Linked DNA regions of Homo sapiens. The protein of the gene in region 1 purifies or fractionates together with the protein of each later gene. This does not show direct contact. Each region holds a gene or a part of one and is shown on either strand. Other genes may lie near its edges.

What was found.
Region 2: the proteins of TAS1R2 (region 1) and SLITRK5 purify together in Homo sapiens (affinity purification with mass spectrometry; one large-scale study listed by BioGRID and IntAct). This does not show direct contact.

Annotation. Positions count from the first base shown.
Region 1 is NC_000001.11:18,856,546-18,861,175, reverse strand, and holds the start of TAS1R2 (taste receptor type 1 member 2 precursor), read left to right. Parts: upstream 1-1,515; coding exon 1,516-1,697; intron 1,698-3,544; coding exon 3,545-3,845; intron 3,846-4,630. UniProt on the Homo sapiens protein: Putative taste receptor. TAS1R2/TAS1R3 recognizes diverse natural and synthetic sweeteners.
Region 2 is NC_000013.11:87,674,055-87,677,243, forward strand, and holds part of SLITRK5 (SLIT and NTRK-like protein 5 precursor), read left to right. Parts: intron 1-1,326; 5' UTR 1,327-1,334; coding exon 1,335-3,189. UniProt on the Homo sapiens protein: Suppresses neurite outgrowth.

The sequences.
Region 1 (4,630 bases):
GGCCCTGAAGGAGGAGCAGGGCTTGGCTGGGGTGGGGCAGGAGAGAGCATGTTTTTATTTGTTTTTATTTTTTATTTTTTGAGATGGAGTCTCACTCTGTAGCCCAAGCTGGAGTGCAGTGGCATGACCTCAGCTCACTGCAACCTCTGCCTCCTAGGCTCAAGCGATTCTCGATTCTTGTGCCTCAGCCTCTCGAGTAGCTGGGATTACAGTGTGTGCCACCATACCCAGCTAATTTTTTGTATTTTTAGTAGAGACCGGGTTTCACCACGTTGCCCAAGGTGGTCTCAAACTCTTGAGCTCAGATGATCTTCCTGTCTCGGCCTCCCAAAGTGCTGGGATTACAGGCGTAAGCCACCGTGCCCAGCCGATCATGGGGTTTTTGATCACCTTTTTCTACCTTGAAGCCTCTGCCCATCAGAACCATGGAGCGCAGCAGCCGGGTATGTGCCTGTGACAGACCCATTCCAGCCATGTGGTGTGTGGCAGGTTCCCTAGGGCTCGGCCACATGTTGGTAGGCCTGGAAAGGAGCAAAACAGCACTAAATGGACAGGGGTCTCTGATTCAAATGGGTCCCTAATTCACTGGAGCCACCTCCCCGCTTCTGACTCCTTGGGCGTATTCACCTTTGAATTTAGGAATTTTCAACTTTCTGTTTTGCCAACAACCCTGCCCTTTGGTGTGGGGTCCAAGGGGTCGGGGACCCAGAGTGGGTGTTGCTAGGCTGACTGATGGCAGCCTTCAGAGGGAGTGAGACCACCCCTCCCTTCCCTCCTTCCCCCACCCTCTTTGACACCGCTGGGTTTTTTTTTTTTTTTTTTTTTTATCAAAAGCACTAATTTTGTGATGTAATGTGATGTAGCGATGAAGGACCCAGCCCCGGAGTCAGACCATGTGGTTTGAATCTCAGCTCTGCTAGTCAGGAAGCCTGGGCTGGATTTCTTAATTTCTCAGTGCCTCCATTTCTTCATCTTTGAAATGGGGTTAGTAATAGTCCCGGTTACTGCAACCATTATATGAGATGATGAACCGCGACACCAGCATGATGCCTGGTTCTTATTGACAATGGCTACCACTTTCTCCACACCTATACATCACTACATGCCTGGCCTAACTTGGCTGGACTCCAGAGCTTGGGCTCTTTTGGCCACAGTACTCTGTTTCCTGACAGCACTTATGTCCTTTACTCCTGAAATATTTGAAATGTCAGGAAGATGAGACTTGTCCTTGGACAAGTGGCAGAAGGCCAGGGCATGGCCAAGTTATCAGGATGCTCTCTCTTTCCAAATAGGGTTCCCCTAGACCACCTAGCCCCTCTATGCTCTAAGAAAGAATCATCATAATTCCACCCTCCTTTCCTCCCTCTGGGCCCCCAAACCTCTCCACCTGCTCCAGGTGCCCCACAGTCGGTGGCAGGACCATCGCTATGTAAATGTCTGTGCAAATACCCTGGTGTCAAGCTGCCAATTCTCCAGTGAGGCAGGACTACCTCCTGAGACCATCACTTCCCAGCCATGGGGCCCAGGGCAAAGACCATCTCCTCCCTGTTCTTCCTCCTATGGGTCCTGGCTGAGCCGGCTGAGAACTCGGACTTCTACCTGCCTGGGGATTACCTCCTGGGTGGCCTCTTCTCCCTCCATGCCAACATGAAGGGCATTGTTCACCTTAACTTCCTGCAGGTGCCCATGTGCAAGGAGTGAGTCTCCAGTGTGGGGCTGGAAGTGGCAGTGGGGATGGGGTGGGAGGCCAGGCCTGGTCCTGTGGGTCCTTGGGAGCCAGACCAGGACCAAGGGCTTAAAGCACTCCTCCCCATTCATTGCCAACCCCCTTATTCTGGATCCATGCCCCTAGTCCTCAGGGAGGCCCCGTATAATATGGGTTACCAAAATCTTTGGCGACTGTGCTCTGAAACACTGAGACTGGGGTCATCTCAGTGCCATTTTTTTTAAATAGAGTTACAGAATGTTTGAGCCTAGAGGGCTCTTAGAGGCCATCAAGACTGCTCCCACCCACTTTGGCAACTGGGGGACTCCCAATGGGTCCATGTCAAAGCCCATTCTGAAAACCTTTGGGAGGCAGAATGTGATTTTTCTGTAGCAGGTTCTGTGGTGGGTAGGGGTGCTTTTGGGCCGAGAGGGAAGTTCCTCTTCCCCCACCTCCTCCCTGAGCCCCTTGGGGTGGCAGCATCACTTGGAGATTGTGGGGGCTGTGTGCATCTGCATGCAAGCACGAAGGACATGGAGCCAGCCTGGGACTAAAAAAGAGTGACCTCTTGCAGAGAGGGTGAAGGTATTGCGGGAGACAAGGAGAAAGGAAGAACAGTGCAAAAGATGATTAAGGGTTGAGTATGAGAAATGCATCATTTATGACACTGGGGAAGATTATATGCTGGCTTGAGAATGGTGAAGGTGATGGCACCAGGCATGATGCTGGGTTTTCTAATGCTTGTGATCATGGTGGGGTGTATAATGATGGTGATAGTTGTGATGAAAGTAATGGTGGTGATGCTGATAATGTTGATAACAGTAATACTGGTGATGATGACAATGATAAAAAGTATGATGGTGATGATGATGATGATAGTGGTAATGGTGGTGATGATGGTGATGGTAGTGATGATGATGGCAGTGGTGGTAATAGTGTTGGCAGTGATGGTGCTGGTAGTGATAATGGTGATGGTTGCGTTGATGATGGTGATGGTTTTAACGATAGTGTTGGTGATGATGGTGATGGTAGTGATGATGGTGTTGGTGGTGATGATAGTGATGCTGAAGATGGTGCTGATGGTGGTGATGGTGTTGGTGATGATGGCGATGGTAGTGATGCTGGTGATGGTGTTAGTGATGGTGTTGGTGATGGTGGTGATCGTAGTGATGCTGATGATGGTGCTGATGGTGTTAGTGATGACGTTGGTGATGGTAGTGATGATGGTGATGGGGGTGGTGATGATGGTGATGCTGATAATGATGGTGCTGATGATGGTGATGGTGGTGAGGGTGTTACTGATGGCGTTGGTGATGGTAGTGATGATGATGTTGGTGGTGGTGATGGTGGAAATGGTGGTGGTGATGGTGGTGATGATGGCTGTGATAATGGTCGTGCTGATAGTGATGGTGGTGACGGTGATGATGGTGGTGATGATGGTCACAAGGTTGTGGTGACAGTGATGGCCCTGGTGGTGATATTGGTAATATGGGTAGTGGGTGATGATGGTGATAGTGGTGATGGTGGTGATGGAAGTCTTAGTGGATAATGATGGTCACATTGGTGGACATTGGTAGAGTGGTGATGGAGGTTATAGGGATAGTAGTGATGATGGCCACATGGATAACAGTATCAGTGGTGGCCATATGGGCAATGGTGACCCTAGAGATGTGGTATGGTGACAATGACATGGTGAAAATGCCCGAGTCTTCTGGAGTGGCTCTTCTCAGTCAATGCCTTGGCTTTCCTGTGGCAGGAAGGAGGAGTGGGCTGGTTCTCTTATCTCTTCCTTCCTCATTCTGGATCTGCTTCCACCTCATGATGCTGTGGCCCCTCCAGGTATGAAGTGAAGGTGATAGGCTACAACCTCATGCAGGCCATGCGCTTTGCGGTGGAGGAGATCAACAATGACAGCAGCCTGCTGCCTGGTGTGCTGCTGGGCTATGAGATCGTGGATGTGTGCTACATCTCCAACAATGTCCAGCCGGTGCTCTACTTCCTGGCACACGAGGACAACCTCCTTCCCATCCAAGAGGACTACAGTAACTACATTTCCCGTGTGGTGGCTGTCATTGGCCCTGACAACTCCGAGTCTGTCATGACTGTGGCCAACTTCCTCTCCCTATTTCTCCTTCCACAGGTGAGGCCCCTGGGCCCTGGAGAAGGACCTGGGGAGGGGGGCAGAGGAATGGCTGTCTAGAGGCCTCAGAAGCCACTTCCTCCATCAATCATGGGAGGTGATGATAGGACCAGAAGCAGGGTCAGGACATCAGCCCAAATCTTGAGAAGGTAGCCCAGCTTATGGAGTAAGGGCTCAGGCTTTGGAAGCGGGCAGATCTGGTTGTGCAACTTGGCACCGAGCCTTGGCCACAGTGAAGCCTTTGGCAAATCTCTTGACTCTTCTAGCCTCAGTTTCCTCACCTGTAAAGTGGGATGATAAGCGTTCCATCCCAGGACTGTCTGAAGGTTAGTGTTCAACCTGTGTAAATTTCTGGCACACAGTAGGTAGTAAATAATGTTGTTTTATAAAGCATCTTGCACAGGAATAAAAACTTGAAGTGCTTAGTATTATTCTGTACAGCTGCCTAGCACAAGGTCTGCCTCGTAGTAGGTCCTCACAAAAGGGTGATTTGTATTACTACTATTATTATAACTATTATCATAATCATGATTGAAAGTGCCAAGTGCAGTACTGGTACAGGCTATATATTCATTAAAGATCAGCTAGCAAAAGACTTGGCACACAGTAGGTAGTCACAAATATTGTGATTGTTACTGTTTAATGTTAGTACTTTTACATGAAGCATCTAGCTGAGGACTGAATTCATTCTTTCATTCATGTAACAGATATTTATTGAGCACCTACTATGTGCCAGGTACTGTTGTAGGTGCTGGGATACAGCTGGCAACAACTTAGAAATCATC
Region 2 (3,189 bases), on another chromosome or scaffold:
ATGTCCTTCCTTTAAGAGTGCTGCTGTTGATCAGAAGTAGGAAGTGGAAGGAAGCCTTCAAGGGGACAAAAAGAGAGCAAGAAAAAAAAGGGGGAGGGGGTCATATTGATTCCTGTGGGAGATGAAATTCGGATATTAAACAACTGACCTAAGTCGCTTACAGTTCTTCCTCCCACCTTTCTATTTTGCCTCTTAATCAGCCCAGGCGTCCTTTCCCTGAGATTAAAAAAAAGAGAGAGGGGAGCGTTAACAATTAAATGTAATAAGCAACTCCAAAGATGGGGATGCTGTCGAGGTGGTAGTTCCGTGCAAACCTTGCTATTACCGTTGCAAATAGACGCGGAGCCCAAGGTAAGGGAGGCTTTCGTGCTGATCCTTGGTGTACTGATTCCCGGTAAGCGGTAGGAACGTCCTTTTTAAACTCTAGGCATCGGGAGGTATTCGGAGATTGCGGATACCTTCGCTGAGTTCTTTGTAATCCATCGTGCAGAACTATTTCAGTGGCTTAAAGATGCGGTTTGGTAGCGTCGCTGACATGATCAATGAGAAGTGGTCGCAGGGCGCTCTCCGGGAAGCGCTGCTAAGTGGTACCGTGCATGCAATTAGGACGCTGATGTGCTTTAATAGCGTGGTAGTGAAGTCCACCATCAAAGCAAATGCGCTCTCCTTTTTTCTCCTTACTCAAAGCTCCGGGAGACAATTGGTGATTTAAGAGCTTCTTGGGGCTCCTTTGATGCATTATATTACAGCCTTTTTGCCTCTGAAAAGTATCCTTTAGGTTCCCACCGTGGCATTTCTAGCGATGGTTTAAAATACCCCAAGTATTTTGGCTCCTTGCCTCTCTGTGAACATGAGAGACCTTCACGGTGAACTGTTAACTGAAGAGGCTCTGAAAGAAAGAAGGGGGGGTGGGGGCTGGGTATAGGTGAGGTGGGGAACCTTGTAAAATGGTGCTTCTTTTTTCTTAAATTAGAACCATGAAACTGAACTGACAGCCATTTTATGTATATTTATGGATTGGTTTTGAAAAGGGGGGGAGAAGAGAAAACTAAAATGGGACTTTATCTAACCTGCTCTTATCTTGTAAGGAGCAGCATATTTGTGGTGTGCTCATTTAAAAAAATTAATCAACCTTTAAATCAAAATGTATAATAGATTTTAATAAAATCTAGAGAATGTCAATGTTTCACTTGGGGAGGTGTGTCATTTGTATCTCTTCCTTTTGGGTTTTAGAGTAATAATGTTAAGAAAGAGAGAGACTTTCTGACTGATCCCTTAAATTTTTGTCATATTCTGTTATTTCCTTGTTTTCTCTCTCCCTTACAGGAGGTAAAATGCACACTTGCTGCCCCCCAGTAACTTTGGAACAGGACCTTCACAGAAAAATGCATAGCTGGATGCTGCAGACTCTAGCGTTTGCTGTAACATCTCTCGTCCTTTCGTGTGCAGAAACCATCGATTATTATGGGGAAATCTGTGACAATGCATGTCCTTGTGAGGAAAAGGACGGCATTTTAACTGTGAGCTGTGAAAACCGGGGGATCATCAGTCTCTCTGAAATTAGCCCTCCCCGTTTCCCAATCTACCACCTCTTGTTGTCCGGAAACCTTTTGAACCGTCTCTATCCCAATGAGTTTGTCAATTACACTGGGGCTTCAATTTTGCATCTAGGTAGCAATGTTATCCAGGACATTGAGACCGGGGCTTTCCATGGGCTACGGGGTTTGAGGAGATTGCATCTAAACAATAATAAACTGGAACTTCTGCGAGATGATACCTTCCTTGGCTTGGAGAACCTGGAGTACCTACAGGTCGATTACAACTACATCAGCGTCATTGAACCCAATGCTTTTGGGAAACTGCATTTGTTGCAGGTGCTTATCCTCAATGACAATCTTTTGTCCAGTTTACCCAACAATCTTTTCCGTTTTGTGCCCTTAACGCACTTGGACCTCCGGGGGAACCGGCTGAAACTTCTGCCCTACGTGGGGCTCTTGCAGCACATGGATAAAGTTGTGGAGCTACAGCTGGAGGAAAACCCTTGGAATTGTTCTTGTGAGCTGATCTCTCTAAAGGATTGGTTGGACAGCATCTCCTATTCAGCCCTGGTGGGGGATGTAGTTTGTGAGACCCCCTTCCGCTTACACGGAAGGGACTTGGACGAGGTATCCAAGCAGGAACTTTGCCCAAGGAGACTTATTTCTGACTACGAGATGAGGCCGCAGACGCCTTTGAGCACCACGGGGTATTTACACACCACCCCGGCGTCAGTGAATTCTGTGGCCACTTCTTCCTCTGCTGTTTACAAACCCCCTTTGAAGCCCCCTAAGGGGACTCGCCAACCCAACAAGCCCAGGGTGCGCCCCACCTCTCGGCAGCCCTCTAAGGACTTGGGCTACAGCAACTATGGCCCCAGCATCGCCTATCAGACCAAATCCCCGGTGCCTTTGGAGTGTCCCACCGCGTGCTCTTGCAACCTGCAGATCTCTGATCTGGGCCTCAACGTAAACTGCCAGGAGCGAAAGATCGAGAGCATCGCTGAACTGCAGCCCAAGCCCTACAATCCCAAGAAAATGTATCTGACAGAGAACTACATCGCTGTCGTGCGCAGGACAGACTTCCTGGAGGCCACGGGGCTGGACCTCCTGCACCTGGGGAATAACCGCATCTCGATGATCCAGGACCGCGCTTTCGGGGATCTCACCAACCTGAGGCGCCTCTACCTGAATGGCAACAGGATCGAGAGGCTGAGCCCGGAGTTATTCTATGGCCTGCAGAGCCTGCAGTATCTCTTCCTCCAGTACAATCTCATCCGCGAGATTCAGTCTGGAACTTTTGACCCGGTCCCAAACCTCCAGCTGCTATTCTTGAATAACAACCTCCTGCAGGCCATGCCCTCAGGCGTCTTCTCTGGCTTGACCCTCCTCAGGCTAAACCTGAGGAGTAACCACTTCACCTCCTTGCCAGTGAGTGGAGTTTTGGACCAGCTGAAGTCACTCATCCAAATCGACCTGCATGACAATCCTTGGGATTGTACCTGTGACATTGTGGGCATGAAGCTGTGGGTGGAGCAGCTCAAAGTGGGCGTCCTAGTGGACGAGGTGATCTGTAAGGCGCCCAAAAAATTCGCTGAGACCGACATGCGCTCCATTAAGTCGGAGCTGCTGTGCCCTGACTATTCAGATGTAG